Regions from separate parts of the Homo sapiens genome. Here region 2 is linked to region 1. Evidence: fine-mapped expression QTL. A gene starts in region 1. The other region holds a variant in brackets. All regions are shown on one strand. Distances are between the middles of the regions.

Evidence for each region.
Region 2: its variant is fine-mapped to the expression of IBA57 in whole blood (INTERVAL, PIP above 0.99).

What each region holds. Positions count from the first base shown.
Region 1 is chr1:228,156,171-228,172,064 of GRCh38, forward strand. It overlaps IBA57 (iron-sulfur cluster assembly factor IBA57), which reads left to right and starts at 9,634. Exons shown (of 3, transcript NM_001010867.4): 1 at 9,634-9,987. The coding sequence starts at 9,647. IBA57-DT (IBA57 divergent transcript) reads right to left here and starts at 9,342. Exons shown (of 2, transcript NR_103540.1): 1 at 9,304-9,342; 2 at 7,916-8,322. LOC124904534 (a long non-coding RNA gene) reads left to right here and starts at 5,024. Exons shown (of 2, transcript XR_007066913.1): 1 at 5,024-7,283; 2 at 7,980-9,012. It overlaps GJC2 (gap junction protein gamma 2), which reads left to right. Exons shown (of 2, transcript NM_020435.4): 2 at 1,570-3,656. The coding sequence starts at 1,589. The coding sequence ends at 2,908. RefSeq lists an enhancer at 9,219-10,121 and a silencer at 9,226-10,265.
Region 2 is chr1:228,191,319-228,207,212 of GRCh38, forward strand. It overlaps LOC124904536 (a long non-coding RNA gene), which reads left to right. Exons shown (of 2, transcript XR_007066917.1): 1 at 1-3,449; 2 at 6,250-12,262. It overlaps OBSCN-AS1 (OBSCN antisense RNA 1), which reads right to left. Exons shown (of 2, transcript NR_073155.1): 2 at 12,188-12,837. Among named protein-coding and RNA genes, the nearest start is that of OBSCN, 8.8 kb to the right of the region's middle. RefSeq lists an enhancer at 1,867-2,367. The variant C/T (reference allele first, on the strand shown) is at 7,355.

The sequences.
Region 1 (15,894 bases):
TGTGCATGTGTGTGCATATATGTGTATGTGGTTGTGCATACGTATGTGCATGTGTGTGCATATGCACAAGTGTGTATGTGCCACTGTTTTCATGCATGTGCATCTGCATGTGAGTGCAAAGAAGCATGCCTGTGGATGTACACATACATCTGTTTGCATTAACCCTGTTTGCATGTGTGTCTGAGCATGCACGTGTACATGTGTATGCATGTGTGTGCATGGGTATCTGCATATGCATGTGCGTGTTCATGCATGTGCACGTGTGTGCATGTGTACACATGTGAATCTGTGGGTATGTATCTGAGTGTGTGTGCACATGTGAATGTGTGTGGCTCTGAGGGGTACTGCACAGATGTGAGGAAGCAGGGCCACTTCCCCAGGAACCCTGACTGCCCCCTCTTCCTGCCCCGGGTGGGGAGGCCTCAGCTGCATAAAGAGGCCGGGAGCCTCACCAGCGACTGCTGCTGGTCCCACACCTGCCGCTGCTGCCTCCCAGGCCAGGTACCGGGAGGGGGCCAGAGGCGGAGGGAGCTAAGGGGTCTCCTGCCTCAGCGACCCAGGAGCAGGTACTGGCCCTGGGGCAACCGCCAGCAGAGGGTGGGCAGGGGAGCTGCAGGAGCTCTCCTTCTTTGGAGCACAGGCCCTGCTGCACAGCCCTTTCCTGGGCACTTGCCCACCTTGGGCTTGGCTGGTCTGCGGCATAGCTGTCTCTGAGGGTCGCAGGTGCTGAGTGTGGCCTCACATCACTGGGTCTATAACCTCGCTGGACACCGTCCCTCCTGGACGGACGACTGGCTTCATCCTGACCCCAGCTAGAGATGGTCTGGGTTGAGACCATGGAGGACCAGGAACCTAGACTGGGCGGGCGGAGCCCTGGGACCCTGGGCACCTGAGAAGGGCAGCGGGACCAGCCGGGGGCTGGAGGGAGGATGGAGGATTTTGTGGAGGTGGAGGGACCCCGACGCCCCTGTCCAGGGTGTGGAGGGACCCCGACGCCCCTGTCCAGGGTGTGGAGGGAGGCAGAGCAGGGCCTCTGGGGGCCGAGGGGCTATGGGGATTGTGGACTGGTGGCACTTTGGGGTCTGGGAGCTGATGGTGGTGCAGGCACGGGGGGCTGTGAAGGACTGAGGGCTGATGGGGCTGCAGGGGCTTGGGGGCTAGGGAGCTGGAGGGGCCAGGAGGGATTGAGTGGCTAGGCAGGCTGGGGAGACCCTTTGGATGCTGAAACTCTGTGGGACCCTCCCCAACAACCTGGATGCGGCTGGGGCTGGGTTGGTGGCCATGGGTGCAGTGGACACTGAGACCACCAGTCCCCACACACTTGAGTGGTGCTTGCCTCAGTGTCCCCATCTGCCTCATGAAGGCAACTCACCCAGCTGGGGCCCTGCATCTGCACGAGCAGGGGCCGGATCAGGTGGGGGCTTCCACTTCCGTTTAAGGCGGTAAGCTCCACGTCATTGACTGTGTAAGCAGAGAGGGGCCAGCTGCGAGGCAAGCCTGGAGCCCCGGCTCTGAGCGCCGCGGGCTCCTAAGTGCAGGCCCCTGGCTGACCCCTACCCCGCCCCACAGGACCCGCCCGCCCGCCCCTATGACCAACATGAGCTGGAGCTTCCTGACGCGGCTGCTGGAGGAGATCCACAACCACTCCACCTTCGTGGGCAAGGTGTGGCTCACGGTGCTGGTGGTCTTCCGCATCGTGCTGACGGCTGTGGGCGGCGAGGCCATCTACTCGGACGAGCAGGCCAAGTTCACTTGCAACACGCGGCAGCCAGGCTGCGACAACGTCTGCTATGACGCCTTCGCGCCCCTGTCGCACGTGCGCTTCTGGGTCTTCCAGATTGTGGTCATCTCCACGCCCTCGGTCATGTACCTGGGCTACGCCGTGCACCGCCTGGCCCGTGCGTCTGAGCAGGAGCGGCGCCGCGCCCTCCGCCGCCGCCCGGGGCCACGCCGCGCGCCCCGAGCGCACCTGCCGCCCCCGCACGCCGGCTGGCCTGAGCCCGCCGACCTGGGCGAGGAGGAGCCCATGCTGGGCCTGGGCGAGGAGGAGGAGGAGGAGGAGACGGGGGCAGCCGAGGGCGCCGGCGAGGAAGCGGAGGAGGCAGGCGCGGAGGAGGCGTGCACTAAGGCGGTCGGCGCTGACGGCAAGGCGGCAGGGACCCCGGGCCCGACCGGGCAACACGATGGGCGGAGGCGCATCCAGCGGGAGGGCCTGATGCGCGTGTACGTGGCCCAGCTGGTGGCCAGGGCAGCTTTCGAGGTGGCCTTCCTGGTGGGCCAGTACCTGCTGTACGGCTTCGAGGTGCGACCGTTCTTTCCCTGCAGCCGCCAGCCCTGCCCGCACGTGGTGGACTGCTTCGTGTCGCGCCCTACTGAAAAGACGGTCTTCCTGCTGGTTATGTACGTGGTCAGCTGCCTGTGCCTGCTGCTCAACCTCTGTGAGATGGCCCACCTGGGCTTGGGCAGCGCGCAGGACGCGGTGCGCGGCCGCCGCGGCCCCCCGGCCTCCGCCCCCGCCCCCGCGCCGCGGCCCCCGCCCTGCGCCTTCCCTGCGGCGGCCGCTGGCTTGGCCTGCCCGCCCGACTACAGCCTGGTGGTGCGGGCGGCCGAGCGCGCTCGGGCGCATGACCAGAACCTGGCAAACCTGGCCCTGCAGGCGCTGCGCGACGGGGCAGCGGCTGGGGACCGCGACCGGGACAGTTCGCCGTGCGTCGGCCTCCCTGCGGCCTCCCGGGGGCCCCCCAGAGCAGGCGCCCCCGCGTCCCGGACGGGCAGTGCTACCTCTGCGGGCACTGTCGGGGAGCAGGGCCGGCCCGGCACCCACGAGCGGCCAGGAGCCAAGCCCAGGGCTGGCTCCGAGAAGGGCAGTGCCAGCAGCAGGGACGGGAAGACCACCGTGTGGATCTGAGGGCGCTGGCTTGCGAGCTGGGCCAGGGAGGAGGAGGGTTGGGGGGCTCCGGTGGAAACCTGCGACCCCTTCTCCTCAGCCTTCTCCTTAGCCGGTGGCCTCAGGCAGACTCTGCCCAGAGGGGCAGCCAGGCTGCTCAGGGAAGGGGCTGAAAGCGGCAGAGGAGTGCCCTGGCTTGGTCACCACTGGGGCCAAGGTGGGGTGGAGAGAGGCCTAGGAGCCAGAAAGGGCCCTCTGCTGTGGTCTGAACCCCAGGGGGAGTGGGGCATTGACTCCACCCCTGTCCTGAGCTGGAATAGGTCCTCTGGGATGCCAGCTCTCCCCTTTGTGCTTCCCTGCAGCAACCCATGGAGGGCCCAGGGTGCCTGGTATGGGCATCAGTTGGTGGGGGTGCGGGGGTGCGTGTCCCCATTCCCTGCAACAGCAAATGGGGCTCCTTCTTCAGCCCTCCCCTTCCCAGCCCCAAACTGAGACAGACTGGGAGCTGGGAGCCTGGGGTGGACAGGACCATACCCTCTTTGAGCTTCTGCGATGCCGGCCTTCCGTTCCTCTGGGAGGCTTGAAGTTCTGCAAAGATGTTGATATGCCTTGCAGCTTGGACCCAATGGGTGGTGGTCAGGGCCTGGGGGCTTGGCCATGCTGGGGGAATGGGGCTCTGGGTTCCTGCCTGTGGCCTGTCTGTCCTCCTCCCTAATTCAGACCCAGCCTCAAGAGGAAAGGGAGTAAAATAAAACTAACTTGTTTATAACCTTGTGTGTGCATGTGTATGCATGTGCACGTGTGGCTATGTGTGTGACTGCATGCACATGTATGTGCATTGTGTGCATGTCTGGGTGTATGCTTATATGTGTATGCATGGGTGTGTGTGCATGGCTACCACATGGGGAGACATGGCTTAGCTCCAGGCTGGCTGGGAGAGGAGACCCCTCCCCAGGGACTGGCAGGGGAGTATGGTCACAGGCGAGCCCCTGTAGCTTGTCAGACAACACTCGGGGCCTGCTCGGTGCCAGGCAGCGTGCCGGGGGCAGGGGTGGGTGGGGCAGGGTGGAGTGCACTGATGGTGAGAAAGAAAGAAAACACTCAGAGCCTCAGGTTGGGCCGCAGCTCAGTGGATGGAGGGCGGCTGTCTCAGGCCCCGTCATGACCAGGACGTCGGCCAGAGCCTGCAGGGGTGGCTTTGGCGAGGGGCAGGGGGGCTCATTAGCCCCTGGAGCACACTCCGGGTGACTGGCTACCCCCCAGCCTCCCTTAGGCCTGGTGCAGCCTGGCCGGCTGCCCCTCCTGGGCTGCACACCCCTCTCTCTGTGGTGTCCCTCAGCCAAGACTCAAGCCCAGGCTGAGCCCTGAGTCTCACCGAAGCCCAGCTCCGGGCAGATGCCAACTGCAAGCTGAGTCCCTCTCCTTTCTGGGGCTTGCCTGGCTGACCTCTGGCCCCATGTGAGCCCTGACTCAGGGAGCCACGGACAGAAATGCCGAAAGTGCAGCCTCAGGGAAGAAAAGCAAACACCAACCCCAACAGGTGTCCACTCCAGTGGGGACACACCAGGAGCCTCTCCAAGACAGGAAGGGTTTGGGGCTGTGCTGCTGGCGGTGCCGTCACGGGGGAGGCCAGGTCCCTGTGGTGGGGGCCGCGGTGTCCAGCCATGCTGGGCAACTGTGCATGGCTCACCCTTCCTCCACCTTTGGTTCTGTTCAGGCCTTCACCTGATCAGACGAGGCCAGCCACATTGCAGAGGCCAATCTGCTTTCCTCAGTCCATCTATTCAAGTCTTAGTGTCATCTGGAAATGCACTCACAGACACGCCTAGAATAATGTGTGACCCCATATCTGGGCACCCTGTGGCCCAGTCAAATGGACACATAAAATGAACCATCACAGGCCAAGCACTGTCTCACGTCTGTCATCCCAGCACTTTGGGAGGCTGAGATGGGAGCATCACTTGAGCCCAGGAGTTCAAGATGAGCCTGAGCAACACAGACCCCATGTCTACAAAAAATTTAAAAAGTAGCTGGGCATGGTGGCATGCACCTGTGGTCCCAGTACTCAGGAGGCTGGGGTGGGAGGATCACTTGAGCTAGGGAAGTCGAGGTTGCAGTGAGCTGTGATGGCACCACTGCACTCCAGCCTGGGAAACAGAGCAACACCCTGTCTCAAAATAAATAAAATTAGCCATCACAGGCAGACTGGAGGCAGAACTGCTGCTTCTTTGGGAAACTTTAGTCTTTGGCTATATATCTAGATATAGATATAAAAATAGTATATAGTATCTGTGTCTATATTTCCTATGGTTTTGTTTCTCTGGAGAACCCTGGCTAGTACACATCCCCCAGCCAGAGCTGTTCAAAGGGCACCCCAGCTTCGAGGGAAGCTGGAAATGATCTCAAACTTGGAGGGTGTGCCCGTTGGGACTGCCATAGCACCGCATCATCCACTGGGTGCCTTAAACAACAGACACTGATTATCTCACAGTCCTAGAAGGGAAGGCCAAGATTAAGGTGTGGGCGAGGCTGGTTCCTCCTGCAGCCTCCCTCCTTGGCCCGTGGATGCCATCTCCCCCGTGTGTCCTCACACAGCTGTCCCTCTGTGTGCATCTGTGTCCTAATCTCCTCTTCTTTTAAGGACACCAGCCACCGTGGATTAGGACCCACCCCAATGAACTCATTTTAACTTAATCACCTCTTTAAAGGCTTTGTCTCCAATTATAGCCACATTCTGAAGTTCCTGGAGGTTAGGGCTTCAGCACAGGAGTTTCGAGGGGACAATTCTGCTGGTATTAGAGGGTATATGCCCAGTGGGAAGCTGGATTGCCACAAGAGAAGGGGAGACGGGACCCTGGGACAGACCTCCCTTCTTGAACATTTGGGGGTGGGTGGGCCACATCAGGTTTGTGAGCATCTGCTGGTGGGCTTAGGCTCTGTTACCACACCCTCCCAGCGGGATGGCCCTAGCCAGGAGAGGCTGTGCAAGCCCAAGCCTCCACGCCATCTGCTAGTCCTCCCTCTAAGACCAAGTCCTGGATAATCTGGACGTTCCCACAATGTCATGCCTGAGCCCCACACCACCACGCAGGCCTGGCATCTCCCACTACAGTGGGACGTGGTATCTTAGTTGCTCCAGTCTGCGGACCCCCAGAAGCTAAACCCATCTCGCACTCCTGGCGCTTGATCAGTCACTTTTAGAAAACCCCTGCCTTGGTTTCCCCAGCCACCTGGGGAGGCCACGACGGTGATGAGCTGAGCCTGGCACTGCTGACACCACAGCCCCCCTCCCTCCTCTGTCCTGCATCTTCCGAGCTCTGAGGCAGGTTGGCAGGGGGGCCAGTCGCTGGTGGGCCCAGCCCTGTACACAGCAGGACACACCCAGAGCAGGCGGTGCTGGAGCAGGCTGGCGGGATGGGACTCCATGTCTCACCTCCATCCGTTTCCACAACCTCAGCCAAAACTCTCGGCTGCTCATGGGAGTGCATAGTGGGGTGAGGGGCCAGCTGCTCAGAGACTCCCTCAGAATAGGGCAGTGGCACTCTCCTTCCTCTAGGAAGGGAGGAAGCCCTGAGGCGAGAATAACAGGAAACCACCTTCCCCCAACCCCCCCACAGTACCTGGGAAGCAGGGGCTGCGACCCCTACGCCCAGGCATTTTCCAGTTCTCACTCCCCTGGCCCCTGCTTCAGCCTGGTCCCTGAAGCCAGGACAGGGGCGGGGTTTCCTCCCCCAGGTGCCAGGCCCCAGTCCCCTGCCTGCTGATAAGGAGAACAGCAGCCAGGGTGGCTGGTGTAGAGTCCAGGAAGGCTTCTTGGAGGTGGCCTGGAGTTACGGCCTCACATGGCTCAGGCACTGGAATGTGGCCCCCAGGACTCTGGAGCTGAAAGCTCTGTTTCCTTTGAGTCCATTCGAACTGAAGTGGCCCCTGGTGTTGGTGGTGGCTTCTTTGGGGTGGGGGGGCCTAGGCAGGACAGATTCGGAGCCAGTGGGCCCGGCCCGGGGCACCAGGTTGCCGCACGCCTTTCCTGCTGCCTGTGCAGGGGTGGAAGCAAATTCCTCCTCTGGCTGAGGACCAGGCTGACGTGAGCCCAGAGGAACTCGACCCCCGCCCGTGGGTGTTGTCTGCGCCACTCCCTGCCCCGGGTTTCATCCTGCCTGCCTTCCGCTCTGTCCGCATGGGGCTGCCCGGGGGGTACCGGGTCACCCTCAGGAACGCCAGGCTCTGGCAGAGGAAGGGGTGGCGGCTGCAGCCAGTGGCTAGGGAGCGCATTCTAGGCCTGGCCTATCTCAGTCAGGAAGCTGGCGTCTGGCGGGGGACTGAGGCCCAGGGACCTTGGGGGACCCAGCTGATTTGCTCCAGGCTCCTCACCATGCCCGGAGCCTCGCCTGGTTGGGTAGGCAGGGTCCGGGGCCTCACAGGGCTTGGGGCAGGTGGGGATGCTGTGAGGAGGGTCCAGAAGGGCAAGCGGGAGCTCCAGGGATGAGGAAGCTGCAGTGAAGAGAGTGGGCTAACGGCAGGGCCTCCATGGCCACATCCAGGGCCTGCGGGAATTCGCTGACTGCCCAATGTCACCTGAGCCCCTAAGGCATGCCGGCTGCTGGCCCAGGCCCTCAGGACACGGCAGGGAGCTATGGCAGAGACTTTCTGCTTGGCCAAACTCCGGCTGGGATCTGGAACTTTCTCCTAGGCCCATCTGTGCACTTGCTTGGAAAATCCAGTTTTAGTAAGAGCCCTACTGAGTCAGTTTAGCCAGAACCCCACACCCTGGATATCTCACCCTCGATGACATCCAACCAGGTCCCTCATCCTCCACCATCACCTGGTGACGTCTGATCACCCTGCCTGCCTAGAGCAAGGACCCTGTGAGGTGGGTTTAGCCAGACCCCTCAGCCCTGATGTCTCCTTAGTCATTCCCACCCACAGACCCCACGCTGCTCCTCGGCTTCTCCACCCTCTGCCCTGCTGTGTTGGGGTTGAGCTCCATCTCCCCCAAGGCCGCCAGGCAGGGCCCCACACCACATGATGCGCCTTGGTGCAGTCTTCCTCACTGATGTTACTACGCATCATGAGGAATTTTTTTATTCAACAGATACAAAGACCTCTGCTTGCTGGGACTCTGCACCATAAGGACACATTGAGTAAGTCTTCTTTGGTGCTTTGAGTGGAGGGCAGTGGAGAGGGGAATGTCAACAGGGTGCATGGGCCCCAGGAGGCCAGCAAGGCAGGGATGGCTTGGACCAGGGCAGTCAGACTCTAGGGCTGAAGGCTGCTGGGGCCACCTTGTAGATGTGTCACCTACTACCAGGGAAAGTGGCCACTGTACAGGGCTGCTCAGCAGGGGGTATGGGACATCACTCCTCGAGAAAGCACGGTGGGGTGGATATGTCATAGCAGTGTGTGGTTCCTGCCTAAATTGTCCTCTGTGAGTTCAGCTGTGAAGAGAGGACGAGAGTTATTGGAAGGACGTCCTGTGGTCTGGAAGGACGTCCTGTGGGAGGACAGGCTGGGCTCCAGGGGAGCTTGGAATCCTGCACTGAAGAGGACTATAGACACATGATGGGGGTGACCCTGGCCTGAAAAAAGCAGAAGTTACCAAGGATGTGATTTGAAGCTGTGATTGTGTCTCATCATGTCACACTGATTAGGGGTGCGGAGGGGTTGTGGGCTGGATGGTGCCTGTCCTTATCCGTGGAGACACTTGGGGATGGAGCCTCCTGCCACCTGCAGCTGAAGTCCCAATGGTCCAGCAAATGAAAAAAATGACACAACAGCCACACGTGGACGCTGGCGAACTGGTAGGAAAGAGGAAGCGGCCGGGTGCGGTAGCTCACGCCTGTAATCCCAGCACTTTGGGAGGCCAAAGCCGGTGAATCGCTTGAGCCTAGGAGTTTGAGACCAGCCTGGACAACATGGGGAGACCATTTCTACAAAAAAAATACAAAAATTAGCTGGTGTGGTGGCTAGCGCCTGTAGTTCCAGCTACTCAAGAGGCTGAGGAGGGAGGACTGCCTGAGCTCTGGAGCTTGAGGCCAGCCTGGGCAACATAACCAAGACCCTGTCTTTACAAAAAATAAAAATAAAAATAAAAATAAAAATAAAATGCTGATACATGCTAGACCGTGGATGGACTTTGAGAATACTATGCTGAGTGAAATAAGCCGTCGCAAACGACAAATCCCGTAGGATTCTGCTCCTGTGAGGTCCCTAGAGGAGGCACGCTCATGGAGCCAGAAGGTACAATGGGAGCTCCAGGGCCTCGGGAGTGGGTGTTTAACAGGGAGTTTCAGGTTGGGAGGATGAAGAGGTTCTCGAGATGAGTGACGGTGCCCGACATGGGTGGGTGAAAACGAGGAAGGCCACCGAATGGGACATGGGATGGCGCTTAAGAGGCCGGCAGAAACCTCGTTACCTACCGAGGGTGGAGCCTGCGTGCTGACGGATAGGCCGAGTCCCCGCCCCGAAACACACCCCGCGCACGATGCTCCGCCCCACACGCATGCCCCACCCACCCAGCAGGCACGCTCGCCCCGCCCGCCCCTTCCAGCTCGGGAGGCCCTGCTCCTCACGCACGCACTCTCAGTCGGCCTCAACCGGCGCTGCTCCGCCCCTCAGGCACGCACGTTCCGTTCACCCCTCACGCACGCACTCTGCGCCCGCCCCTTCCCGCCTCCCTCCGGCGGCCACCGCCAGGGGCCGCTGTGGCACCCGCCCCTCCCGCTTCCTTGGGCCCTTCCCGCTGCCCCACTCTTGTCCAAGATGGCGACCGCGGCGCTGCTTCGAGGCGCCACTCCGGGGCGCGGCGGCCCGGTCTGGCGCTGGCGGCTGCGCGCGGCCCCAAGGTGCCGCCTGGCCCACAGCTCCTGCAGTCCTGGTGGCGACCCAACGGCCGGAGCGGCCTGGGCCTGCTTCCGGCTGGACGGGCGCACCCTGCTGCGCGTGCGTGGCCCCGACGCGGCGCCCTTCCTGCTAGGGCTGCTGACCAATGAACTGCCGCTTCCGAGTCCTGCGGCCGCGGGGGCCCCGCCTGCTGCGCGCGCGGGCTACGCCCACTTCCTGAACGTGCAGGGCCGGACGCTCTATGACGTCATCTTGTACGGGTGAGCGCGTGCTGGGAGGGCGCTCGGGGGCGGGCACCCAGGGGAGTGGCCAGGGACCGGCACCCAGGGACAGGGCGGGCGCCCGGGGCCTGCAGAGGGCGTGGGGGGTGGGCACCCGGGGAGGGCCGGGATGGGGTGGAAGCTCAAGGGTGGGTGGGCCAGCGACTGGCACTCAGGGTCAGGCACCCAGGAGATTCCACTTGGGATGGACACCCAGGGGAAGCTCACCCAGGGCCCAGCACCCGGGGGAGGGCACCCAGAGGAGGGCTTGGCTCAACACCCAGGGATGGGTCAGCGACTCATCCAGGGGAGGCCTGGGGGCCAGCCCACCATATCAGAGCAGAGGCGTCTCTAGGTGGGCACCTCCCAAGTGGGCCATCTGGTGACCCTTCTCCCTCCGCAGGGACAAGGGGTTCAGGGGCCCCGCCTGGTGGCAGAGCTGTGTTTCTGAGTGACAGCTTGTGGTGACACTCCCGAGTTCTGTTTACCTTGTGTTTCCCTGTGTCTCCCCATAGCTGGTCACATTGGCATTTGGCTCAGTCATCTGTGCTGACATCACGACTGTCAGTGATGTTCATGCCGGGTCAGGGCCTTGACTGCTTACAGCCTTGGGTTTCCCTTGCCCAGCTTCCAGGGACCTGGATCCCTGAAACCTCCGCCCGGTGGAGTGGATCTGGTTCGCGGCCGCCTGCCTGCTGTCCCTGCTATGGCGGACCCGGTTCTTGTTCTCTTCAGCTTACTCCTGTGTTTTGGTTTCAGGGGATGGACACCTTTTTAATGACTTCCTGAGCTACGTGGGGTGAATTTTTGGACTCATTGTGTCTCTGCTAGTGGCTTTACCTGATATCCTGGCTGGGTGTAAAAATCTAGCTTGGAAATTGTCACCGACAATGTTCACATCACAACTTTGTTTTCTCGCTGCCAGCTTTTCTGAGAAGTCTGGTGCCGTTCTTATTTGTATGTGAACTGTGTTTTTCTCAGAAGCTTTTCTTTATTCTTGATGTCGTGAAATGTCATGCTGATGTGTCTTAGTTTGGGCTTTTTCCATATCACATCTCTGGGCACTTAGTGGGCTCTTTAAATCTAGAACCAGAGTTGGTGAAATACGGCCCTGAGGTCAGACCCAGCCCATTGCCGGTGTTTATAATAAAATTCTCTGGGAACCCCACCCGTTGGATTCCAGGTGGTCTGGGGCTTCTTTTTTTTTTTTTTTTTTGAGACGGAGTTTTGCTCTTGTTGCCCAGGCTGGAGTGCAATGGCACAATCTTGGCTCATTGCAACCTCTGCCTCCAGGGTTCAAGAGATTCTCCCGCCTCAGCCTCCCAAATAGCTGGGACTACAGGTGCCTGCCACCATGCCCGGCTAATTTTTGTATTTTTAGTAGAGACAGGGTTTCACCATATTGGCCAGGCTGTTTTCACACTCCTGACCTCAGGTGATCCACCCGCCTCGGCCTCCCAAAGTGCAGGGATTACAGGTGTGAGCCACTGTGCCCGGCCTGGGGCTGCTTTTGTCTGGAGTGGTAGAGTTGTGGCACGAGTGTGGCCCTCAAGCCTAAGTTATTCACTGGCCCTTTACAGAAAAAGTGTGCCCACCCTAGCTCAATAGGCTTAAATCTTCATGTCCCAGTTCAGAGATATAGTCATCATAGTCTGTCTTATGTATTCATTACATTCTGTCTAGCTGCTTTAATTTCTTCATCTTAAGAACTACATTCTTTGATTCTCTGGAGCCTTCTATGTTAGTACTTTGCTGTTCACATGTTAGCCTTACAATGATGTTGATTTTGGTCCCCAAATTCCCTTCCATATTTCTATAGTCCTCTCTTGTCCTTTTCCCTTTGAGTCCTAGTTCAATTGAATTCCTATTCTTAATAAGTGTTTTGTGGTGTAAAGTACAGCTGACTTTGCACTACATAGGTCACTTATGCGTGGATTTTCCTTCACCTCTGCCACCCTGAGACGGCAAGACCAACCCTTCTTCTCCTTCCTCCTCCTCAGCCTACTCAACATGGAGACCATGAGGATGAAGATGTTTATGTTGATCCATTTCCATTCAGTGAAGTGGAACTACATTTCCTCTTCCTTAGGATTTTCTTCCTGGGATTTGTAGCTTACCGTATTGTAATACAGTATATAATAGCATAAAACATAAAAAATATGTGCCACTTGACTGCGTATGTTATGCATAAGGCTTCCAGTCAACAGGAGTCTGTTAGTAGTTAAGCTTTTGGGGAGTCAAAGCTTAAAGGTGGGTTTTCAACTGTGTGGGGGCCAGTGTCCCTAGCCCTTGCATCATTCAAGGGTCAGCTGTCTGTCCTTTCTGTGTCTCAGGGCTTTTTCCTCTTCATCCTTTCTTGCCTGGTCTGGAGCTTGTCTGCAGACCTACTGGGCCCCAGCTCCCCTTACCAAGCATATGCTTGGTGGCTCCTCTGTGTCTTTCTATTTGCTCTCATTGTGGGGGTCTCTGTCCTCGAGGTCTGCAGGAGGAGTTAATTTTCTTCACTTGTGCTGGGTGTCTGGTGTGTCCGCCACTGTTCTGAGTGCTGAGGGCATTGGAGGCGGCTCTGTTCTTCCCCAGCTCAGCACTGAAGGGTGACGTCATCCAACTCTGGTCTCCCTTCTGAGATGTGACACAACGTCACAGGCCAGGGAGCTCCACTCTGAGGGGTCAGGTGGGGCGGGACCATCCTCCGTGGGATTCAGCATCTGTGTAATAATACTTGAAACCCTCTAGCTTCAGTTCTGTTGGAGTTCATGGCCCTGTTTCTCCTCAGCCGTCAGAAGAGGGACACAACAAGGTTACCTCCTTGAGTGTCTCCCCAGGGGTGGTGGGTGACAGGTGTCCAGATGCCACCCCTCCCAGCTATGTGGCATGGGTGGGCTTAGGGCTGCGCTCGTTGGGCACGTTTAGTTCAGTTCATGAGAGTGTAAACTCTTTTCCTTGTCGGGCTGCTGTTGGCTGTTGACCTCCCTCTCTGTGGTTTGCCCCCTCTGGTCACTCCTCTGGGGAGAGGGCAGCCTGCAGGTCAGGGACCACCTCTCCCTGGAAGCCTCTGTGTGTTCCTGCTTCTCTGGTCATTCCCTGCCCATCATTCCTTTATGGTTTTTTCCTGACTGTAGGATTTTTTATTTCAACTTTGATACTTAATATATCATCCTGAGCCATCGCTTCCTTAAAGCACCCTATTCTTGTTTCCTGAATGTAGCACCTTCTTTCAGATGAAACTATAGTTATTTGGTTGTTGTCTTTTAATAGGAGTTGCTTTTTAGAGCAGTTTTAGGTTCTCAGCAAAAGAGCAGAATGTGCAGAGATTTCCCATATTACCTCACAACTTCCCCCACCAGAGTGCTATTTTCGTCACAACTGATGAACCTCTGTTGACATGCCATCATCACTTGGAGTACAGTTTCCATGAGGGCTCACTCTTGGCTTGGTGTGTTCATGAGTTAGGCAAATGTATGATGACACATGTCTACCATCGTAGCATCACATACAGTAGTGTCACTGCCTTGAAATCCTCTGTGCCCTGCCCATCCATCCATCTCCCCTAACTCCTGGCCACCACTGATGTTTTCAGTGTCTCCATAGTTTCATGCTTTCCAGAATGTCCTGTAGTTGGACTCATGCATCTGTAGCCTCTTCACATTGGCGTTCTTCACTTAGTGATATGCGTTTAGATTCCTCCATGTTTTTTCATAGCTTGACAGCTAATTTCTTTTTTTTTTAGACAGAGTCTTGCTCTGTCCCCCAGGCTGTAGTGCAATGGCGCAATCTCGGCTCACTGCAACCTCTGCCTCCCAGGTTCAAGCGATTCTCCTGCCTCAGCCTCCTGAGTAGCTGGGATTACAGGCATGCACCACCACGCCCAGCTAATTTTTGTATCTTTTTTTAGTAGAGACGGGGTTTCACCATGTTGGTCAGGCTGGTCTCGAACTACTGACCTCATGATCCGCCCGCCTCGGCCTCCCAAAGTGCTGGGATTACAGGCGTGAGCCACGGCGCCCGGCCGACAGCTAATTTCTTTTAGTACTGGTTAGTATTCCATTGGATGGACCACAGTTTATTTGTCCACTCATCTACTGAGGGACATATTGGTTGCTTCCAAGTTTTGGCAATTATGGATAAAGCTGCTGTAAACATCCATGTGCAGATTTTCATATGGGTCTGAGTTTTTTTGTTTTTATTTTTTAGACACAGGGTCTCGCTCCATTGCCCAGGCTGGAGTGCAGTGGCACAGTTGTAGCTCACTGTACCTTCAAACTCCTGGGCTCAAGTGATCCTCCCACCTCAGCCTCCCAAGTAGCCAGGACTACAGGTAGTTGAGGTCTCACTATGTTGCTCGGGCTGGTCTTGAACTCCTGGGCTCAGGCGATTCTCCTGCCTCAGCTTCACAAAGTGTTGGGATTGCGGGCATGAGCCACCATGCCTGGCCTCCTTAGGGTCCCTTTCTATCAGTTGGTTTTGATCTCTCTTCATGTAGGAGGCAGAGAGAGGCTGTAGGGTCATGTTGCAGGTAGGATTGTGGTCCAGTGGCCTTGCTGCGAGCTGGCCGGGGCAAGGATGTGGACTCAGTGCAGGGCTCAGCAGGCCCAAGAGTGTCAGGGCTGTGGCCTTGTGTCTGGCCAGCACTGAGGAGCAGGAGAGACTTGTCAGGCCTCTGGTGGCCTGGGGAGGAGGGAGGAGAGAGAAGGGAAGGAGTCAGGCCGGGTCCCAGAGCAGTGTTTTCCTGAACATGACTGGAAACCCTTGGATCTGATGGCCAGGGGACCCTTTCTTTCAGTTGGCTGGGCCAGAGCCACCCCTGACCTCCCTCCTCTTCCTGCACCCTTGCTCCCACCGGGGCTTCTGGGCTCAGCAAACAAAAGCACAGGACACCCAGGTCCGTCTCAGACGAGCAACGGATGATCTGTAGGTGCATCCTATGCGGTATTTGGGATATACTAAAAAAAGTAATTTGTTGTCGATGTGAAATTCTGATTTAACCAGGTACCCTATATTTTCTTTGGCAACCCTGTCCCCTGCGCCCCTCAGCGGTATCTGGAAATATTTTTGGTTGTCATGATGGGGTGGGGTACAGGCCAGGGGTGCTGCTTAGCATCTGGACAGCCCCCACTATGGAGAATGATGAGGCTGAGAAAGCTCCCCAGGCCGGGGCTCTCCTGTGAGGCAAGTCTCCTGGCAGTCTTCAGGTGTGGCAGGGGTTGGGGTGGGCCCGGGGGTCATGTCCCAGCTCAGCTGGTCCTGAGAAGCTGCCTGGTAGACAGTCACCGGCACAGAGAGCTGGAAAGTGCCCTCGACCCCAGAACCTGGGTCCTGTGAGGACATCCACCCTGTGTGAGGCCAGGGAGTGCTCAGCAGATGGGGGCAGCAGGGGGTGTCAGCATGGGTGGGGGTTCCTGCCAAGGCAGGCAGCTGAGCTGGCCCCACCTCAGAGTGCAGGGGCCCTCAGCTTGATCTTTTCTGGGCTCCACTCTTGACTGATGGACCCATGGGGCACCCTGGCCCCACCCTGCCTGCCTTGCCCCAGCTCCTGCCCTTGCCCTGTAGGGCTCTGCGGCCTCCCCTGTGCCTGTGTGCCTGGCTCACTAGACCCTGGACCTGTGGTCCCTCAGCTCCACTCTAGTCCCCTTACTCTGTCCCTCTACTGCCTGGCGTCGCTCAGCTCCTCCCTGCCTGTCCGGCGCCCAGCATCCTGTGCCCATGACCTCACATCTGTCCCTCTGCCCGGGTCCCCCACTCACCTGTGTTTTGGTCCATCTTTGTCTGCTGACCCCACTATAGATTTTAAAAATACAAATATGCATGCACGTGGTTAAAAACTCGCTGATGTCAGATGGCTGGGATGAAAGGACTGCCTGCTGCCTTTCCTCTTGTAGTGCTCGGACACCTCTGCAGGCGAAGCTC
Region 2 (15,894 bases), 35 kb after region 1:
TCATTTTTTGAGGAACCTCCATACTGTTTTTCATTATAGCTGCAGCATTTTACATTCCCAGCAGCAGTGTGCAAGCATTCCCGTTTCTCCACATCCTTGCCAACACTTGTTATTTTCTGCTTTTGGATAGTGGCCATCCTAATGGATACGAGGTAATTTCTTTTTTATTTTATTATTGTTATTTTTTTGAGCCTGGGTTTCACACTATCACCCAGGCTGGAGTGCAACCTCTGCCTCCCAGGTTCCTGCCTCAGCCTCTTGAGTATCTGGGACTACAGGCGTGTGCCACCATGCCTGGCTAATTTTTGTATTTTTAGTAGAGATGGGGTTTCACCATGTGGCCAGGCTGGTCTCAAACTTCTGAGCTCAAGCTCACCTGCCTCAGCCTCCCAAAGTGTTGGGATTACAGGCGTGAGCCACTGTGCCTGGCCTGGTACAAGGTAATTTCTCATTGTGGTTTGATTTGCATTTCTCTAGTTACTATGTTGAGCACCTTCCCATGTACTTTTTGGTTGGTTGTGTGTCTTCTCTGGAGAAGTGTTTGAGTCATTTGTCCGTTTTAAGATCAGATTGTTTGTCATTTTGTTTATCCATTCATCTGATGCCTGGGCTGCTTCCACCTCGTGTCCATTGTGAGTAGTGCTACTCACATCACCTGGGTGGACAGACAGTTCATTCCGTTTTCAAGCAGTCACTGACAGTGTCGCAACTGGCCCTCCTCACAGCGTCGCAATGTACTCGAGGCCAAACCCAACCAGCCCAGGAAGGACCCCCGGCTGGGGGCCCATAGGGTGCTGGGTCTGCAGTCTTCCACTGTGGGGCAGGGCGGGGGCACTGTTCAGAAACTGTCCTTAGTGGAGGAAAATGACGCTTTTTTCCCTGCAGTCCCCAATAAGCGTTCTGCTGCAGAGAATGGAGGGCCGCTGCGAGGGGATACCAAGTGGTGAGGGTTTGCATTCCTCCTGCAGGCACACAGCCTGCGGGCACATGGCCTGTGGACACACGGCCTGCAGCCCAGGCGCCAGGTGGACGGGTCAGCAGAGGCGTTTCTTGGATTTAATTTCCCGACTGGGAATGGGTTGAGCCCCGTCTGTCCCTCTGTGTATTGGCCACACCCGTTTCTTTCCTGTCCCAGGCCTTTCCAAGTCCCTTGTCCTTCTTGCTGATTTTGTAGGCGTTATCTGCGTATCCTTGTCAGTTCTATGTATTGCCTGTATTTTCTATCAGTGTGAGGCTTGTCTTTCTTTAATGGTGTCTTTTGGGACAGGAGTTTTTAATTCCAGTGCAGTGAACTTTTATTTATTTTTCTTAAGGTTTGTGCTTTCTGTGCCTTGCTTAAAAATTCTTTCCCCGCCCTAACCTCATGATAAGAACTTCTGTAGTTATACCTTTCTATGAATGAATGAATGAGAGGGTATCGTTCTGTCACCCAGGTTGGAGTGCAGTGGCGTGATTATGGCTCATTGTAGCCTTAAATTCTTGGCCTCAAGCAATTCTCCCACCTCAGCCACCCAAGTGGCTGGGACCACAGGCATTGCGCCACCATGCCTGGCTAATTTTTGTAGTTTTTGTAGAGACGGGGGTTCGCCATGTTGTCTAGGTTGGTCTTGAACTCCTGGGCACAAGCAATCTGCCTGCCTTGGCCTCCCAGAGAGCTGGGATTCCAGGTGTGAGCCACAGCGCCTGGCCTGGACCTTTCTTCTGTAGATTTTTAATCTACTTGGGGTTGGTGTGGATGTATGGTGTGAGGTGGGAATTAACATTTTCTGGTTGACATAACTAGCTGTCCTAACACGATTCACTGAAAGTTCGTCTTTCCCCACTGACCCAGGGTGCCACTTTGGTCAGACTCCATGCGTTCACCTGTGTGAGTTTCTTTCTAGACTTCTCATTCTGCTCCACCCTGTCTGTTTGTCTGCTTCTGTGCTGGTACCGTGATGTCTTAATTACTGTACCATAAGGATCATTCTTAGTAACTGGCATGATGCTATCACAAGCTAAGGTCTTCTTCAAATAACATTTTGACTTATCTGTGTGAATTTTCGAGTCAGCCTGTTTACACACATAGTCATGCACACACACAATAGCATTTTGATCAGCATTGCATTAAATGTGTAGGTCAAGTTGGGGAGAACTGATGTCTTTGTGTTACTGAGTTTTCAAGTCCAAAAACATTACATGTCTCTCGCTTATTTTTTTTTTTTTTTTTTTGAGACGGAGTCTCGCTCTGTCGCCCAGGCTGGAGTGCAGTGGCGGGATCTCGGCTCACTGCAAGCTCCGCCTCCCGGGTTCATGCCATTCTCCTGCCTCAGCCTCCCAAGTAGCTGGGACTACAGGCGCCCGCCACTACGCCCGGCTAATTTTTTGTATTTTTAGTAGAGACGGGGTTTCACCGTTTTAGCCGGGATGGTCTCGATCTCCTGACCTCGTGATCCGCCCGCCTCGGCCTCCCAAAGTGCTGGGATTACAGGCGTGAGCCACCGCGCCTGGCCGTCTCTCGCTTATTTATGCCTACTTTAATTCTGCAAAGTTTGTATAATTTTTCTGAAGTCCTTATATATCTTTTGTTAAATGTATTTATTTAAAATAATTTTAATACTGTGGCAAAAGGCATCCTTGCGAAATTGCATTTATCTAATTTTTTGTTACTGATGTTTAGAAATAAATTTGCTAAATTTTAATTGTTCCTAGTAATTATTTTTATATAGGTAGCTTGGGGCTTTTACTTTAGACAATCATATGATCTTAAATTAATGACAGTTTTGTTTGTTTTTGGTAATCCATAAATGTTTAGTTTTTTTCCCATTCCTTTCTCTGATGGGTCAGGTTAAACAGGGGTGCTGGTGCCTCACTTGGCTCTTGATCTTAAAGGAAAGTTCATCATTGTTTTACCACTTGGTCTGGTGGTTGTTGACATTTCTTGGTAGGTACTCTTTTTGAGGTTGAGAAAGTTCTTATAACTGGAAATCCTAGTTTGCTAAGATTTTTTTTTTTTTAAATCACAAAAGTTTGTTGAAATTTATCAGTTTTGGGGAGTATGAATTGAAATGATGATTATGTTTTTCGAGGAACTTGTCCATATCACCTGTTTTCAAATTTATTTTTATAACATTTGATACAGTTTGGATCTGTGTTCCCACTAAATCTCACATTGAAATGTAGTCCCCAGTGTTGGAGGCGGGGCCTGGTAGGGGGTGTTTGGATCATGAGGGCAAATCTCTTTAACATCTAGCTTTGATCCTCTGAACTGGAGTCCTGCATCCTTGAGATAACTCTACACTCATGATGGAGTGAGAATGACAAAGGCAAACAATACCTCAGCATCACCATGGAAACCACTGGGACCTCGGGGGTCATAAGAGGGCCCCAGGGACCCACAGGCTGCTGGGATCACACTTTTGAGAACCACTGCTCTGCTGCTCTGATCAGCTCCTTATACTTGCTGCTCGGTAAGTGTTTAAGGCTGCTCCTGTCCTCAACCCAGCTGGGACCTGTTATTTTTTAACTGGAAATGGGATGTGTATTTGTTGAATAAAATTTAACAGTACAGAAGCACATGGAGTAAGAAGCCTGTCCATTTTCCATCTTCTTGAAGGTCACCATGGTCAGCAGTCTGTGCTCACCTCCAGATGCATCTGTGCTTGCAGACATAGATGTCTCTACTCACACACTTATATCCACACACAACACTTTCAAGTAGCCCTTTTCCCAGCTTAGCTGGGGTTGCACCCTCGATGTTCTGCAGCTTGCCTTTCCATGCTGGGTACAGGTGTCATGATGGTGAATTTTACGTGTCAGCTTCACTGGGCCACGGGATGCCCAAACATTTAGTCAGACATCATTTCTGGTGTATCTGTGAGGATGTTTTTGGAAGAAATTAGCATTTGAGTCAGTGACTGAGTAAAGCAGATTGCTTTTCCAAAGATGGGTGGGCCTTGTCCGATCAGTTGAAAACCTGAATAGAACAGAAAGGCTGAGTAAGAGGGAACTCCTCCTGCCCAAATGTTTTGAGGTGGGACGTTGGTCTTTTCCTGCCTTTGGACACAAACTGAGACATTGGCTCTTCCTGGATCTTGAGCCTGCTGAGTTTCAGGCTAGAATGGTACTGTGGGCTCCCTGGGTCTTCAGCCTGCTGACCGCAGATTTTAGGACTTCTCAGCCTCCATAGTCGTGTGAGCCAGTTCCTTATAATCACTCAGTCTGTTGGTCTGTCATCTATCTATCAATATCTGTCAGTCATCCATCTCCATCCATGTATCCAATCTATCTAGATCCATCTATCAATCTTCTGTACCTACCTGTCAATCATCTATTTATCTTATCTATCCATCCATCCATCCATCTCATGTATCATGTATCTTACTGGTTCATACAGAACCAATGAGAGACACTTATATCCATCTCCTGTTGTTTCTGTTTCTCTGGAGAATCCGGAGTAATACAGGTGTCATCCCCCATCAGTGCATGAGGGTCCACTGCATTTTTTCCTGTGATTGCCCCCACCTTTGACAGACCTGTCCTGTGATTCATTTGATTCTTCCCTTGGTGATTGAGTTTGTTGCCAGTTTTTTTTTTTTTTTTGCCACCATCAGCTGTCTTGAATATTCTGTTTTTAAAAACCTTATTTTGTAGAGACAGAGTCTCCCCATGTTGCCCAGGGTGGTCTGGACCTCCTGGCCTTATGCAGTCCTCCTGCCTCAGACTCCCAAAGTGCTGGGATTACAGGCATGAGCCACTGTGCCTGGCCTTGAATATTCTTGCATCTGTATCGTAATGCATGGGTAAGAATTTCTGTAAGTCACCTGTGTAACAGACATCTTTTTCAACATTTGTTTTTGGTGTCTTTTGTTGGATAGTCATTTTACATTTTAATGTAATTAAATTTATTTTTTTCCTTATTTGGGATATGTGTTTTTTTGGTGTGTCTTGTTGAAGAAATACTTGCTTGAAAATGTTCTCAATTGTATCCTAAAAGAGTTTGTTTTGCTTTTTTTTCCAGTTGAGTTTTAAAATTCATCTCAGCTTAATTTTAAAAAATTCCATCCCCTACTCCCCCTGCAGACCCTGGCAACCATCAGTCTACTTCCTGTTTTTATGGATTTACATTTTCTGGATATTTCATATAAATGGAAGCATACAGTATATAGCCTTTTGTGTCTGGCTTCTTTCACTGAGCATAATGTTTTCAAGGTTCATCCATTTTGTAGCATGGATCAATACTTCATTCCCATCTGTGGCTTACTAATATTCCATTGCATGAATATACCATATCTTGTTTATCCATTTGTCTGTTGATAGACATTTGGGTTGTTTTCATCTTTTGACTATTGTAAATCATGCTGCTGTGGACAAGCAAGCATGTATAAATTTTTGTGTGGACATATGTTTCAATTCTCTTGGGTATTTATCAAGCAGTAGAAGTGATGGATTATATGGCAACTCCACGTTTAATCAGCTTGAGTTTCGTGTATGGCATTGTATTTATTTCCTATATCTGTTGTAATAAATAACCACAAATTGAATGGCTTAAAAAAATAGACTTTACTCTTCCATAGAGGTCTGAAATCAAGGGGTGGGCAGGGTCATGGTCCCTTCAGAGGTTCCAGGGGACGATCCTTCGTTGCCTCTTCCAACTCTCAGTGGCTCCAGGTGCCCCTGGGCTTGTGGCCACATCCCTCCAGTCTCTGCCTCTGTCTTCACATGGCCACTCTCTTCCTGTCTGTCTCTATATCATCTCATCTCTGTGTATGTCTGTCTCTGTGACTAAATTTCTCCTTCTTATGAGGACACCAGTGGTTGGATTAGAGCCCACCCTGAGGACAGCATCTTAACTTCATTGTATCTGCATAGCCCCTGTCCCTCAGTAAGGTCCCATCCACAGATTCTGGGAATGAGGAGTTCAACATATCTTTTTGGGAGGACACCACTCAACCCATGATAAGTGTGAAGTAGTACTCCAGTTTTCTTTCTTTTTAGAAGAAATAAAAGATATCTTGTTATCCAGAACATTTTTCTCACTCCTCCACAGGGTCACCTTGGTATCTAAATGTGTGAGGGCCTGTTTCCAGGCTCTCTTTACTTTCGTTGGCCTGTTTTTCTAACCCCGAGTGACTGTCTTAATTACTACAGCTTCCTGAGTAGGTTCTTAGCACATTCAAGAGTCAATGCTTAGAGAGTAGAGACTGTTTCTTGCTGGGACTGTTTTCTCTGCACACTGTCCTTAATGGCCTGTTCTCTTGACTCTTCTAGATGTGCTAGCCCTGGCGCTGGCTATTGAAGAGCTAGCAGTGGCCACATGGAAGCCCTGGACAGCTTAGTGGTGTGCTCTACAAATGACTCTGTCCAGGGCATCTCCCAACACAGCAGTGGGACAAGAAGACAATGACGGGATGTTGCATGAACTGACCCTCAGAACCCAATGTCCAGGAGAACATGAACTGGGATCTTGAAGTTCTTCAGAAAGATCAGAGTGAGCGGTGGCCCTGAGTCACTCTGTAGCAGTCATGGCAGTGAGAAGAGCCACTCTCTAATCATAATGGAATTGCAAGATTGCCAAATTAAGTCACCCAGTTAATTGTGGCCCTTAATTTTACTCTAGGAATCTGTGCTGTCCTAATCTTAGCATTTCCAGGGAGACATGGCAGCTGTTGGGGGCAGGAGGAATCACCGTGTTCCATGTGACCACCAGGCTCTACAGGCTCTAATTTTAAATTATGACAGGGAGGGAGAAGGCTGAGAACCATGCTGCTGACACTGAGACAAGGGTTCCCAGAGGTTCATTTTCCCTGGACATGGCAAAAAGACTTTGCATAGCCTTTTCAAAGATTTGGCAAATACTATGGGCCAATTTTTTTTTTTTTTTTTTGAGATGGAGTCTCGCTCTGTCGCCCAGGCTGGAGTGCAGTGGCGCGATGGGCCAATTTTTATATGCATTTTCTGGCATTTATTTCAGTGGATGCAGGATAGATTATTAAAATTCCTGCACTTTACATTTTTAAAAATCCTTTTTTTTTTTTTTTTTTTTTTTGGAGACAGAGTCTCACTGTGTCGCCTAGGCTGGAGTGCAGTGGCACGATCTTGGCTCTCTGCAAGCTTTGCCTTCTGGGTTCACACCATTCTCCTGCCTCAGCCTCCCTGGTAGCTGGGACTACAGGTGCCCGCCACCACGCCCAGCTAATTTTTTGTATTTTTAGTAGAGACGGAGTTCCACTGTGTTAGCCAGGATGGTCTCGATCTCCCGACCTCATGATCTGCCCACCTTGGCCTCCCAAAGTGCTGGGATTACAGGCGCAAGCCGCCATGCCCGGCCTAAAAATTCTTACACAGGCTTTGCTTCATGAAACCCTTTATCAAA[C/T]TGTTTGGTCATTTTTTGATTTTCACCTGAGTTGATAATTGCAACTGAATTCATCTTGAACATTGAGAAAACAGTAAGGACCCATGAGAGAATTTTTAAAAGTCAACCAACAATATCCCAGTCCTCACCAGCAGGTGGTTTAAAGCATCTTTCAGAATTTGAAATCAGTTTTAATGATGGTCACTAACATGAATCATGTTAACATAATTTTAAGCATGTTGTACTTAATGTTCTGATTGAGATTTTTTAAAGTTTCTGTTTTAATTGCTGTTTTGGTGAGAAGAAATGATTCAGGAGGTCTGTGCTTTGTTACCTGTACCCACATGGTGCTCAAGGTTGGGTGAGGGAAAGATGAGCAGTTAAACACACAAAAGTAGGAATTCCAGATCATCAGAGTCATTTAATTTTGTTTTGGACAAGAAACGTTTACATGCTGAATCACTCTGCCTTGTTGTTTTTTTTTTTATCCCATTGTCTCCTGGTATCCATTGTTTCCAATGAGAAATCAGCTGTTAATCTCAGTGGGCTGCCCTTGTATGTGAGGAGCTGGTTTTCTCATGTGTATGTTGGTGTGCCTAATGGTGTCCCACATTTCTTTAAGGCTCTGTTCATTTTCTTCATTCTCTCTGTTTTTTAGATTGCAGAATCTCTATCAATCTATCCTTAAGTTCTGACTCTTTTTTTTTTCCCTGCCAGTTAAAAACCTACCATTGAGCTTCTCTATTGAGTGTTTTATTTCATACATTGTACTTTTCAACTTCAGAATTTCCATTTGGTTGTTTTTATAATTTCTGTTTCTTTATTCTGTATTTGATGAGACATCATCATCGTACCTCCCTTTGCTTCTTTAAGTGTGGTTTCCCTAAGTTCTCTGAACATATTTATAATAGCTGCTTTGAAGCCTTTGCAAAGTCCAACATCTGGATCCTCTCACAGTTTATGTTGTCTGTTCTCCCTCTCCCTCCAGTATAGGTCATACTTTCCTGTTCTTTACATGCCTCGTAATTTTAATTTTTGTTGAAAACTGGATATTTCAGGCAATATATTCTATCAACTCTGGATTCTGATTCAATTCCTCCCTCTCTTGGATTTCTTTTTCAATTGTTTGCTTATGTATTTGTTTAGTGATACATATAACTGGGTATTTATCCAAAGGAAAGGAAATTAGTATATCAAAGGGCTTCCTGCACCCCCATGTTTATTGCAGCAGTATTCATAATAGCCAAGATGTAGAACCAACCTAAGTGCCTAGCAGTACCTGAATGGATAAAGAACATGTGGCATATATACACAATGGAATATAATTCAGCCATCAAAAAGAATGAAATCATGTCATTTGCAGTAACACGGATGGAACTGGAGGTTATTATGTTGAGTGAATAAACCAGGCATGGGGGTCATTTTGACCCAGTCTTTGAGGTTTGTTTTGACCCAGGACATTCTTCTTAGCTGTGTCCTGCTGAAGTTCCTCTGGTGAACTAGCTGGCCTGAGGTTGAGCTTGTTGGTCTTAAGTAAGAGGAACAGTTGTTTTCAAGAGCACCCTTAGGGTTGAACTTCCTTTCCCATGTGCTATTTCAAATAAAGTCAGTTCCTATGGGGAGCGCTTTAGAACTTTCTCTCCTTGTGAACTTCTTTTCCCCTTTGGCAAATCTTGGAGTCAGTTTTCTGGGCAGTGGCAGCCTGTGGTCTTCTTGGATTGCATCAAAGACCCAGATATACATGTCCTATGATTCCACAGACCCTGAACTGTTCCAGTAACCCAGCTGTGGAGTATCTGACTGGGAGCTCCGTGACAAGGCTTGGTGGTGTGCAGACTTGGTTTCCAGTAAGATTCTGCAACTATTTTTCTAAAGACACACACATACCTGTTTGAGCGGGAGCCAGGCATGGCTGACCTCCCCACAGAAGGGATAGGGCTGGGTGTCACTAAAGGCCAGGCCCTCTGCTCATGATGCTTTCACACCATCTTAGGAGTGAAGCTGATGGGCATCTCAGATTTGGCTTTCTCTGGCACAGGTAGGATTTAAAAATGAGGCATAGACTTTTCCTATGCATGTGTGACATGCTAGACATATGGCCTTTAAGACCACATTCAGGTCCGGGTGTGATGGCTCATGCCTGTAATCCCAGCACTTTGGGAGGCTGAGGTAGGCAGATCATGAGGTCAGGAGTTTGAGACCAGCCTGGCCAATATGGTGAAACCCCATCTCTACTGAAAATACAAAAATTAGCCAGGTGTGGGTAGCATGCTCCTGTAGTCCCAGATACTCAGGAGGCTGAGGCAGAAGAATTGCTTGAATCCAGGAGGTGAAGGTTGCAGTGAGCCTAGATTGCACCACTGCACTCCAGCCTGGGCGACAGAGCGAGACTCCATCTCAAAAATGAAACAAAACAAAACAAAAACCAAACCAAACAAACAAAAAACACATTCAGAAACCATCAGGGAGATTAAAAGAGGCACAAATACATCAAAACCAAGGTAATTACTGACCCTGTCTGCTGAGGCAACATACAGTGGCATTGTGAAGAAATGCGCTCACTGCAGCAGAAAGCCACTTCCTTACAGAGTCCCATCCTTGGGGATGGGTTTCCCAGCGCTCCTGCACTCAGGTCTCACGTGTCTGTCCCCAGATCTGCTCTTTTCATTCATGATGCAAACTCTGCAGGGTTCTTACCACAGGCTCGCCTTTGCAAAGACAACGTGATTTTCCTTCTAAAGCTCAGCCAGAGCTACCCCTGTGCTTCAGAGGAACTGGTCCCAGCCTTGTGATCAGTGGGCACCGAGTCCTGGCATGCCGAGCCCTTGCCGTGTTGTGATTGGTTGTCTCAGTGGCTAGCTCTTCACTTTCCCCCATTCTTCTTATTGTGTTAAAATACAGAGAACACAACATTTACCATTTTGACCATTTTAAGTGTCCAGTTCAGTGGCATTAAGCGCATTCATGTGGTTGTGCAGCCATCACCATCACCCATCTCCAGAGCTTCTTCATGTTCCAAACCTGACAATCTGTCCCCATGACACACCAATCCCCTTACCCCGACCCGAGCCCTTGAACCCCCATTCTACCCTCTGTCTCCATGTGTATGAATCCTCTGGGGACCTCACAGGAGTGGAATCAGTCTTTGTCTTTCTGTGCCTGGCTTATTTACTCAGCATAATGTCCTCAAGAATTATCTCTATTGTAGATGTTACAAATGTCCTGCTTTTAAAAGCTGAATTAAAAATAAACTGAAGGCCCGGTGCGGTGGCTCCCACCTGTAATCCCAGCACTTTGGGAGGCCGAGGTGGGTGGATCACCTGAGGTCAGCAGTTCGAGACCAGCCTGACCAACATGGTGAAACCCTGTCTCTACTAAAATACAAAATTAGCTGGGTGTGGTGGTGCATGCCTATAATTCCAACTACTCGGGAGGCCGAGGCAGGAGAATCGGTTGAACCTGGGAGGTGGAGGTTGCAGTGAGCTGAGATTGCGCCATTGCACTCTAGCCTGGGCAACAAGAGCGAAACTCCGTCTCAATAAATAAATAAATAAATAAATAAAATAAACTGAATAGCCGTCCTTTGTGTGTATCCACCACCTTTTGTTCATCCACTCATCTGTTGATGGACACTTGGGTTGCTTCCAGCTCTTGGCTGTTGGGAATAGTGCTGCAATAAATATGGGTGGGCCGGCTGCGGTGGCTCACATCTGTAACCTTGGTGCTTTGGGAGGCTGCAGCAGGAGGATCACTTGAGCCCAGGAGGTCAAGACCAGCCTGGGCAACATAGTGAGACCCTATCTCTATTAAAAAATGTTTTAAAATTAAAAATAAAATGGGTGTACTAATATCTTTTCGAGACCCTGCTTTCAGTTCTTTTGGGTGCATACTGATAGATGGAATTGCTGGGTCACATGGGGATTCTACATTTAATTTTTTAGGAACCATCATACTGTTTTCCACAGCGGCTGTGCACCAACTCTTTATTTTAATAAACCTTCTACCATGTAGAAGTGAAATAAATGATCGTATTTAGTAATTATCATTTTTTTCTCTACAATTTACCTTATCTAAAAAGGTAGGATTTTCCATTTTATTTCCCATTTTTGATGTGACTTTGCCTAATTTTGTAATAGATGATTTTAAAAATATGTTTTGTCACCATAGAATAGAATTTTTTTTTCTTTTTCTTTTTTTTTTTTTTTTTGCAGCACAAACAGAAAAACCAAGAGCTTCTACCCCTTGGTCTTGAAATAGAAACAAAATGAACAAACCCATTTCAAATTAGGAGAACAAGAGAATTGAAATAAGAGATCTTTTCCTCCATAATAGCATTTCTTGTTGTCAGACCAGCTTTACAAAGTAGCCTAACATGTGATCTAAAGAGGAACGTGCTGAGGTAGGCCCAGGAGAAAAATCCCAGGAAGACAAAGGCCCTGTTATTTTTATGGTGCAATTTAATACACATGAATAACTTTGAAAATTAGGTGTTTTTCAAAACAGCTTTAGTCTGTTTCTAATATATAAGGAAAATAACTTTCTTTTGTTTTATGCTACCTAAGTGTGTGGTGTCTATCCAATATGTTACTAGGGTACATGTTCACTGTAGCTATTCATGATAGCCAAGATATGGAATCAACTTGAATGTCCAAGAAAACATGGTACATATACACAATGGAGTATTATTCAGCCATCAAAAGAATGAGATCCTGTCATTAGCAGCAACGTGGATGGAACTAGAGGCCATTATGTTAAGTGAAATAAGCCAGGCACAGAAAGGGAAATATTGCATGTTGTCATTTGTATGTGGGAGCTAATTTGCACTATGTAGACATATATCAAAGCATCACATTGTACACTTTAAATATGTACAATTTTTATTTGTTATGCATCAATAAAGCTGGGATTGGGGATGCGATGGTATAAAAACTAACTCTCCTCTCTACTTGTGCAAGTGCAAGATTCTCATCTGGACAGTTGTCTTCAGACTTTTTTGTGTCCTCCTCAAGAATGTTTAGCCTCTTACAGTTAAAAAAAAAAAAAAAGCTAAATTCGAGACTATGTTTGGGTTTCACCAGTTCTTACTCATGTTGATTTCACGGAGGTAGAGAACTGAATGATGGTTACCAGAGGCTGGGGAGGGAAGCGGGAAGGGAGATGAAGAGGGGCTGGTTAATGGGTAGAGACACACAGTCAGAGAAAATGAATCAGTTCTAGTGTTTAGTAGCATGGTAGAGTGACTGTAGGTAACAATAATTCATCATATATAGTTGACCCTTGAACAACATAGGTTTGCACCACTGAGTCCACTTATACGCAGATTTTCTGGAACCAAATGGGAAGGGAACCAGCAGTGTTCTCAGGATGTCAAACCTGTGTGTATAGGGAGGGCCGGCTTGTCCTATGCTTGGGTTCCACAGGGCTGACCGTAGAACTTGAGTATGCACAGATTTTGGTATATGCGGGGGTCCAGGAACCAGCTTCCCATGTATGCTTCAAAATAGCTAGAAGAGAAGATTTGGAGTGTGAAGAAATGATCAGTGTTTGAGGGAATGGTGTCATAAACCCTGACTTGATCATTACACATTGTATGCAGGCATCAGGACATCATATGTGCCCTGTAAATATGTACAGTTATATATCAATAACAAGTAAGTAAAATTAAAACAATAACTTACTGGGGTAGCAGTCAGATTTACTTGCTCCAAATAGATTTTACTTTGCTTCTGATATGCTACTAGAGAAAGTTTACTTTGAAGTAGTGTATTTGTAAGCAACCCAGCTGCAATGAAAGGAGGTATTTCCATTAAAATATGACAGCATGACTTACAGAAGCCTTTAATTATAATTTACCATTTCTGGCCAGGCACAGTAGCTCATGCCTGTAACACCATCACTTTGGGAGGCTGAGGCGGGATGATTACTTGAGCCCGGGAGTTCAAGACCAGCCTGGGAAACAGGGAGACCCCTGTCTCTTAAAAAAAGAAAATCAAAAAATGAGCCAGGCATGGTGGCTCACACCTGTGGTTCTAGCTACTGAGGAGGCTGAGGAAGGAGGATGATGAGCCTGCGCAGTTTAAACTGCGCCACTTCACTCCAGCCTGGGTGATAAGATTATGTCTCAAAACAAAACAAAAAGGCCACATCACATTGTACACTTTAAATATAAACAATTTTTGCTTGTCAATTATAACTCAATAAAGCTGGGGCAGGTAGGGGACACGGCAGTACAGTAAAAATCCCTCACCTATCTGCTTGCACAAATGCAAGCAGATTTCCATCTGGGCAGCTTTTTTCAAACTTTTGGCAGTTGCATCCTCACAACTGCCTTATTACTTAATTACATAATATTTAACCCCTTATGCTTAAAAAAAAAACCCACGAAACTACAGACTTCATCAGTCTTTGCACTAATGTCCTCTTGTTGAGGAAGAATCTCCTTCAGGGTGGGACGATGCACTTAGCAGTCACATCTCTGTGGCCACAAAGGCTGCTTCTCATTTATACCGGGAGAAACGTTGCCAGCACAGCTGCTGTGCAGGCTTAAGCAAATTGTTTTCACCCTGTGAGCCTCAGGCCTCTCTTCTATAAGATGAGAAAACACCCTTGTTTGGGAATATCTAATAAGATACTGACATGAAAAGGCCTTATGAACGCAAAAGCGTGACACACCTGTGTGTTCTCTCGGTGCTGCTGGGATGTGCGTTTGCTGAATGTGTGTCATCTACAAGCTGGTCAAGGATGGAAAATGCCTTCCCTCCTAACATTCAGAAGGGAATGAAAACCCTCTTTCCTCCTGGAATACAGAGGAGGAAAGAACTTCATCTTTACACCCAAGCCAAGGCACCAGAGATTCTTGACATGTTCAGATACGACTTGGGGATCATAAAATGTTCAGGAAACCCTGCAGGACTGACTTACAGTTTTTTTTGCCTATAGTTTGTGGGCACCCGGGGCCCAGCCACCCCATCGCCTGGGCAGCAGGTGCAGGTCTGAGGCCTCCGGGCCCACCATCCCCCAGGCCTTGGGAGATGGCTGTGAGAACACCCCCTTCAGTTAAACTGCACCCAGGATGCCAGCCCACCCAGCTGTGAAAGCCCCTGGGAGGAGGGCTCATGGCGGGACATCCCTGTGGAAGCTGGCAACTCAAGGGACACAGTGACATTTGCTTTCCTCAGGAAATTGTGTCTGCTCCTCCTCCACCTGTACCCCTTTGAACAGACAGCAGCTCCATGAAAGTTCTCTTTGCAGTGGATTCCAGCCAGGAATAGGCAAGGTCCATGGCCAGCCACTGCATCCTGTGGCCTCCCGTGGTGTGAAGGACACCCTGGGCACAGTGCCTCCGGAAGCTCTGTAGTGTGAATATCCCACTGTCTTCAACAAATACGTTGCAGGGAAATAAGGAACAACAGGGGTCCTGTGAAGGAGGCAGAAAATCCAGCCTGAAGGCTGGCAGTGGTGTTTGGAGATGCAGCGGAGCAGGCAGCAGTGAAGAGGGTCAGGAGGGCAGGCCACTCCTGGAGGCTGTGGGGGCATTGCTTCTCCCAGGTCCAGGAGGCCCTGCAAGGGGCTGGCCCGCACAGCCATCTTCTCTGCACCCTCCACGGCCCTGTCCGGGAGGGGGTGGGGCACGTATTCGAGCACACACAATGCACACACACTTCTGCATGGCTGGGGCAGCTCAGGGCCAAGCTCCTGGTGGGGGAGTGGGCTCTCCTTCCAGCCTTTCCTTTCTCCCTGGTGCTGTGGACTGAATGTGTGTCCCGGAGATTCACACGTTGAAATGCTCACCCCCAAGGTGACAGGATTAGAACGTGAGCTTTTGGAAGTGATCAGTCATGAGATAAGGCTGCAGAATGGCATAACCGTTACTCCAGAGACCCCTCACCCTCCTTCTGATTGAGGACACATGAGAGATGTTGGCCATTGCCCGGAAGAGCCTGAGGTACGCTGTGAGGACACATAGAGGCCTGGCACTGGATCAGGGATGGGGCGAAGCCTGGAGGCACAGAGCAGATTCTGAGCACCCCCATCTTCCCCACCCTCCCTCCTGCCACAGCCTGAGCTGTCCTCCTGGGCCCAGCTCCAGATCCTGCCCGGCCGGCCCCTTCTTTGGCTCCCTGGTGCTGGTAGCTGGGGCCCTGTTGGCAGCACACCGCAGGATAAATGCCCCCAGGTGCGGGGTGCAGGGTCCCGCCTCACATGCCGTCCTGGCTCCCTCCTCCCTCCATGGAGGCCTCTGTGGGTAGAGACTCGGCTCCTCCTCTGGACCTGGGCCCTCCATGGAAAGGCACAGGGCTCCCACTGGGTGGCCCTCTCTGGCTGCTCTTCCCCCGTTGGGGCCTGCCCAGTGCCCGGTCCACACTTCTTCCTGGCCAGGGCCGTGGGGACAGGGCCAGCCCCTCTTGGGTATGAAGCAGGGTGCCATCAGCATCCCCTCCCCAGGGCTGGTCCCTCCCCCCGGTCAGGCTGGGTTCTCACAGGACACTCCTGTGCTCCCATGTAAGGATGACTCTGAGACCCAGCTGAGTGTTCCAGGAGAGCCCCCGGGTGGGCAGTGG